Linked DNA regions of Homo sapiens. The gene in region 1 interacts genetically with each later gene. Each region holds a gene or a part of one and is shown in the gene's direction. Other genes may lie near its edges.

Evidence for each region. Genes that interact genetically often act in the same process or in processes that back each other up.
Region 2: changes in ARL5B (region 1) and SLC30A5 together harm fitness less than expected from each alone (positive genetic interaction), as found in Homo sapiens cells (one large-scale study listed by BioGRID).

What each region holds. Positions count from the first base shown.
Region 1 is NC_000010.11:18,662,408-18,666,062, forward strand, and holds part of ARL5B (ADP-ribosylation factor-like protein 5B), read left to right. Parts: intron 1-3,655.
Region 2 is NC_000005.10:69,110,871-69,114,525, forward strand, and holds part of SLC30A5 (proton-coupled zinc antiporter SLC30A5), read left to right. Parts: intron 1-2,269; coding exon 2,270-2,357; intron 2,358-3,549; coding exon 3,550-3,626; intron 3,627-3,655. UniProt on the Homo sapiens protein: Together with SLC30A6 forms a functional proton-coupled zinc ion antiporter mediating zinc entry into the lumen of organelles along the secretory pathway.

The sequences.
Region 1 (3,655 bases):
AGTAAAGCAATGTAAAAGTTAATTCCTGCAATTTTGTATTGTTTGAACTGGAAGCCTGTTTACTTCGACAGTTATTATTCAAGGAAATAATTTGGAATTCTGATTATCTCTGCAAACATTTTATATGTTAATGTAGTTCTGTGAAATACATATGTGTTATGTGTGTTTGATAGCTCACCTCTAAAGTTTTGCATTGTTTTTTAAATTTCTTTTGAACTTTTGTAGGCATAGTCTTTTTCTCTCAGTGTTATGATTGTGGAAACCTGTCATCAGTTATTTCTTTTTTTGTTGTTTGTTTGTTTTTTTTTTTTAATGAGATGGAGTCTCACTCTGTCACCCAGGCTGGAGTGCAGTGGTGCGATCTCGGTCCACTGCAACCTCCATCTCCTGGGTTCAAGCAATTCTCCTGCCTCAGCCTCCTGAGTAGTTGGGATTACAGGCGCACACCACCACTCCGGCTAATTTTTGTATTTTTAGTAGAGGTGGGGTTTCACCATGTTGGTCAGGCTGGTTTTGAACTCCTGACCTCAGGTAATCCGCCCGCCTTGGCCTCCCAAAGTGCTAGGATTACAGACGTGAACCACTATGCCTGGCCCAGTGATGTCTTTAAATTTTATTTATTATTGTTATATTTTCTGTCACCCAGGCTGGAGTGTAGTCCTGTGATCTCAGCTCACTGCCACCTTTGCCTCCCAAGTTCAAGCAATTCTCCTGCCCCACCCTCTGGAGTAGATGGGATTACAAGCACCTGCCACCATGCCTGGCTAATTTTCGTATTTGTAGTAGAGATGGATTTTACCATGTTGGCTAGGCTGGCCTCGAACTCCTGACCTCAGGTGATCTACTCGCCTCCCAAAGTGCTGGGATTACAGGCGTGAGCCACTGCACCTGGCCAGTTATTTCTAGTGTTACCCAGAATTAAGAACAAATGAAATACAGTTTTAATTGTAGTTCTTTTTCAGAACCATGTAACAGTAACATCTTAATTTCATAATTTAATCATTTCTTTCCAATCCATGAATTTCATGTTATCATTTTGAACACTGGTTGCCAATTGCGTATGATTATTGTCCTTTACTTCTGACTGCTCAGATCTCAGATCTTGTGGCTCACATTTCTCTCTTTAGCTTATTCTGCTCTTTTTTTTTTTTTTTTTTTTGAGATGGAGTCTCTCTCTGTCGCCCAGGCTGGAGTGCAGTGGCGTTATCTCGGCTCACTGCAAGCTCTGCCTCCCGGGTTCATGCCATTCTCCTGCCTCAGCCTCCCAAGTAGCTGGGACTACAGGTGTCTGCCACCACGCCCGGCTGATTTTCTGTATTTTTAGTAGAGACGGGGTTTCACCATGTTAGCTAGGATGGTCTCGATCTCCTGACCTTGTGATCCTCCCACCTCGGCCTCCCAAAGTGCTGGGATTACAGGTGTGAGCTACTGCGCCCGGCCCCAGCTTATTCTGCTCTTAACTCTGGACTGTAAGCAGGTTTCAAACACACTAAACTTAAACTTATCATCTATCTGCATCCTGTCTTCCAGACCATTCTTTGTTTTTGTTTTGTTTTGTTTTGTTTGAGACGGAGTGTTGCTCTGTCACCAGGCTGGAGTGCAGTGGTGCAATCTCAGCTCACTGCCACCTCTGCCTCCCAGGTTCAAGTGATTCTCCTGCCTCAGCCTCCCAAGTAACTAGGACTATAGGCACCTGCCACCATGCCCGGCTAAGTTTTGTATTTTTAGTAGAGACGGAGTTTCACCAAATTAGCCAGGTTGGTCTTGAACTCCTGACCTTGTGGTCTGCCCACCTCAGCCTACTGAAGTGCTGGGATTACAGGTGTGAGCCACCATGCCTGACCTGGCTAACTTTTTTCTTAAGAGATGGGATATTACTGTATTGCCCAGTTTGGTCTCAAACTCCTAGATTTAACTGATCACTTCTCCTTGGCCTCCCAAAGTGTTGGAATTACAGGTGTGAGTCATTGCACCTGGCCTAAAACATTCTGATTTACTGTAACTGATAGTAACAGTAGTGTCTTTTTTTTTTTTTTTTTTTTTTTTTTGAGATGGAGTCTCGCTCTGTTGCCCAGGCTGGAGCACAGTGACCCGATCTCGGCTCACCGCAAGCTCCGTCTTCCGGGTTCATGCCATTCTTCTGCTTCAACCTCCCAAGTAGCTGGGACTACAGGCACCCGCCACCATGCCCGGCTAATTTTTTTGTATTTTTTGTAGAGACAGGGTTTCACCGTGTTAGCCAGGATGGTCTTGATCTCCTGACCTCGTGATCCTCCCACCTCGGCCTCCCAAAGTGCTAAGATTACAGGCGTAAGGCACCACGCCTGGCCTAACAGTAGTGTCTTAACCTAACATTTCCTCATGTTAGGGACCTACCTTTCAAAATGGTGCATTATTGGTGAGTTTTACCATCACAGGCCTTCAGTATTATGTGAAGCATCATAGTGCAAAAGTGAAGCAAGGAGCAGGATTGTTTGCAAATGACCTGGGTCTTCATTTGAGTTGCTTCAAGAAGGAGCCATCTGGTACTGTCCTTCCATTCCTTTCTCCCAACAGGATTATCTGCCTTCAAGTTTTGCTTATCTTTAAACTAGTGGCTTCCTTCTCACCACTGCAGGCATGTTGTTTTCTGTAGATGCTTGGTAGGTGGAGCTTCTAGCTGTCACCAAAATTTAGAATGCTTAGTGCCAGGCAGTCTGTTTGTTCCTCACTGATAAAGGTTCTTGTACTTTAAGGGATAACAAACAGGGTAATACTTAAAGATTAGCTTCATTAGAGGACATGTAGCCAAGCTTGGTGGTGTGCACCTGTGGTCCCAGCTATTCAGGAGGTTCAGGTAGGAGGATCACTTGAGCCTGGGAGGTCGAGGCTGCAGTGATCATGCCCCTGCACTCCAGCCTGGGCAACAAAGCAAGACCCTGTCTCAAATAAATAAGGAGAATTATAGTGAGTTATACTAAGCAGGCAAGTTTTGTTTTGTTTTACAAAGCAGCTTCTACCATAGTGAAAATAGCCCTTCCAGAGGACCGTGTCTGTTTATCCTGCACTGTAATAGGCTGTATCTAGAGTGTGTAGGTCATTGGAAGACCTGCACATCTCAAGAACTTAAATTTTCTTGGTCCCTCTTTTTTTGGCTGATGAAGTTTAGAACTTCAGAGTAGGAATATGAGCTGATAGTTGATTATATGACCAGAATGTTGACATTCACCAGAGGTCATCAAGAAGAGCGGGATTCTGATATGAGATGTGCCCAATCGTTGCCTACAAATCAACTGTGTTGTGATTCTGTGGAAACTTCCCTACTTACCCTGTTGATGTTAACTTGTAACTTTTTAAGCATTCTTCTGCCTTGGAGAAGGGGATCTTTAGTATACTTGGCATAAGTGAAAATCTAGGAAAGATGGTATCTGGGTTGTTTTCTGTATTCAAAGGACATTGCAGAATATATACCACTTAACGGAATAATTAGATGAGCTTTAGCAACTACTTATTAAAAGAGGTGAATATTTAGTGCATGGCACCCAAAGGAGGAAAGAACTGAAGAGATTTTCATTGTACAAAGAGCAGAAACAGAATCTGCTCAAAAGAACTGTAGAAGCCGGTTGAAAAAATGTTAAACAATGAGTAATTGTGTAAAAACTTGAGAGTATATGTT
Region 2 (3,655 bases), on another chromosome or scaffold:
AAATAAAAATGACTTGAAAACATTTAAAAAAAAAGTTTTCCTCCTTAAGTAACTAGAAGTGAGAGTGTTCTCATTAGTGTGAGAAATGGATCAGGGCATCAGTCCAGGACTTGATGATTGTTTTTTCTTTTTTTTTTTTTTGAGATGGAGTCTCACTGGGTTGCCCAGGCTGGAGTGCAGTGGCACCATCTTGGCTCACTGCAACCTCCACCTCCCAGGTTCAAGCAATTCTCCTGCTTCAGCCTCCCGAGTAGCTGAGATTACAGGCACATGCCACTACACTTGGCTAATTTTTGTATTTTTAGTAGAGACAAGGTTTCACTATGTTGGCCAGGCTGGTGTTGAACTCCTGACCTTGTGATCTGTCCGCCTTGGCCTCCCAAAGTGCTGAGATTACAGGTGTGAACCACCACGCCCGGACTTTTTTTTTCTTTTTCTTTTTTTTTTTTTTTGAGACAGAGTTTCACTCTGTCACCCAGGCTGGTGTGCAGTGGCACAATCTCAGCTCACTGCAACCTCTGCTGCCCAGGTTCAAGCAATTCTCCTGCCTCAGCCTCCTGAGTAGCTGGAATTACAGGCACCTGCCACTGCGCCTGGCCTAATTTTTGTACTTTTAGTAGAGACAGGGTTTCACCATATTGGTCAGGCTGGTCTTGAACTCCTGACCTCATGATCCACCCGCCTCGGCCTCCCAAAGTGCTGGGATTACAGGCGTGAGCCACCACGCCTGGCCTTTTTTTCTTAATTATGAGACTGAAGCATTACAAAATTCTCAGTTGCCTTCTTTGTTAACAAAAAGATTAAGTTATGTTCTCTGTATTTGATTGTTGTTGATGTTGCCATATCCTAACTCAGTGAAAACTTAAGAAATTTAAAAGTACATGGTTTTTCTCATGTGTAGTGTACTGAATTTTGTTGTAATACCACACTAACAGAATTTATCCATTATAGTGGTAATCATAGAATGAAGAGTATCCTCACTTTGCATTGTAAACTTTAATAGAAGTATTGTATTATACTTCCATTATAGGTATATATAATACACTTAATGTATCTATATATAATAGGTATTCTACAAGTATATGTATCATACAAGACATGTTATACCTGTAAATTTGTAAATATAGAATGTATAGTAATGCTGTTTAGCCAGGCACAGTGGCTCATGCCTGTAATCCTAGGACTTTGGGAGACCGAGGCGGGTGGATCACGAGGTCAAGAGATCAAGACCACCCTGACCAACATGGTGAAACCCGTCTGTACTAAAAATGCAAAAATTAGCCAAGCATGGTGATGTGCACCTGTAATCCCAGCTACTCAGGAGGCTGAGGCAGGAGAATCACTTGAACCCGGGAGATGGAGGTTGCAGTGAGCCGAGATCGTGCCATTGCACTCCAGCCTGGGCAACAGAGACTCTCCTCAAAAAAAAAAAAGGAATGTATAGTAATGCTATTTAGATTGCTCTTGAAGCTACCATTCTGAAATATTTACATAAACCGAGCTAATATGTCCTTTCTATAATTTTCTTTTATGAAAACCTTTTTCCTCAGCCTGAACAACATGGCTAGACCTGGTCTCTACAAATAAAAAATTAACCAGGCATGGTGGCACATGCCTGTGGTCCCAGCTATTTGGTAGGCTGAGGCAAGAGGATCACTTGAGCCCAGGAATTGGAGGCTGCAGTGAGCTGTGTTCACGCCACTGTACTCCAGCCTGGGCGACAGCGAGATCTGTCTGAAAAAAAAAAAAAAATTTTCCCTGGAATGAGAACATAAATTTTATCAGCTTTTTAAGTACTTTGTACTTTACTAGATCTTAGAAATGACTTTGCTGGTTTTACCGTGCCCTCTGGATTATTTTTCTCTAGAGGAGTAGTATCTAGAATATTCTCTATTCCTTGCATATTGTAGAGTAAAATAAGTTCCTACTAGTTATTCTTTAGCTACGTGGGCTTTTCAACCAGAAGTAAAGTAGCATTTAGGAAGGCTGATTCTGTAAACAGTACCAATTTGTACATAGTAATATGCCCAGCCATGTTAGCAAAGAGATAATCAATGTTATCATTAGTTTATATCTCTTTGATATCTTACTGCCAATACTGTAAGCTTATAATATGTAAGAGCTTTAATGTCAGATTTTTTTCTGTTTTTTAATGCATTTTTGTAAATGCTTACTTGAGAAAATGTTTTTCTTTAGTATTTATGTAGTTACGGTCTTAAAAATCAACCCTTGAAAAAGTCATCCTTGATGTTGTTTTCTTTATTTTCAGACAAGGGGAGCTGCTTTTTTCATTATTGCTGTGATCTGTTTATTGCTTTTTGACAATGATGATCTCATGGCTAAAATGGCTGAACACCGTATCCTTTTGGAATAGATCAGAGTTGTTTCAAGTCTTGAGGAAAACTAGAAGCCTGGAACAATGGAAAAAGAAAGGATAAGTGAATTAAACTGATCAATGATGAATGAAACTTTCATAGATTAATGTAGATATTCTAAATCAGTATTCAAATAATGAACAAACTCATTATAAGTTAAATATTTTATAGCATCTCTGTATCACCTACAGTACCCTAAATTTTCAGAAATGTAGGGACATTGAAAGAATATTTTGGAATGTCCTGGTGCTGGAAAAAAAAAAGGTGATTTGCCACTCAACATGTTTGCTCCCTTATAATTTAACAATTAAAAGGCTGATAAATGAAAAACCTTTAGTATCTTCTTGCCTGAAAGAAAAAGTTCAAATTCCCTTACCTAGTATTCATTGTCTTGCTCTAAATTATTATCTCTAGCTCAGCCCCAACTCTTCTCTTACAGAAACCCAACTTTCTAGTCAAATATATCTACTCATTTTACTCTACAAACATGCCTTTTTTTCTATTTTCTATTCATACATCCTTACCCACTCCATCCAGCAGAACTCCAAGCACCAGTTTTTATTCTTCTATTACTGATACTCACTGCCCTAAAACTTATTAGTAAACTAATAATAATTTTCTTTGTTACAGTGAGGGAGAAGAGTGTGACTTTGGAAAAGCTCCAGGTTGCTTGTGATACAACCTCTATTCCCCACCCTCTTTTGCTTGCCACTTAATTTGCTAAGACTTATGTGGTCAGTGACTTAGAAGACAGATTTAGGACTCATTTTACATGTCAGTCTTAAAGGGCAACCTTAATTCCACTGGACAGGAGTGGTCCAGGGAGATTCCTTGCTCTTGTACCTTTGTCGTTCTTAAAGTATGTATGCAATGTGTCTTTTAGAGGTTAACTACTAAAATCTGGCAAGTTTATCTTAAGCACTATTATAATTGTTTTGGAGACAACAAAAGAAATACAGGCATTCCAGTTTATAAATGAGGTCCTGGAATTAAATGTTAGATTGTTTTATTTTGTTTTGTTTTTAAGTGAAACATGTTATTGAAAGTAATTAAGTTTGAGGCCTCCAGATCAGTCTATATGCAATCCAAAATAATGTAACTAAAATTTCAGGAGAACTTCAGGTGTCAAAGAGTGACTTTTTGGAATTTTTTTCCTTTACTTCAACTCACTTAGCTGAAGGACATCATGACAGTGCTCTAACTCATATGCTTTACACAGCCATTGCCTTCTTAGGTGTGGCAGATCACAAGGTATGATTTCTTTGTTCCTAACAGGATCA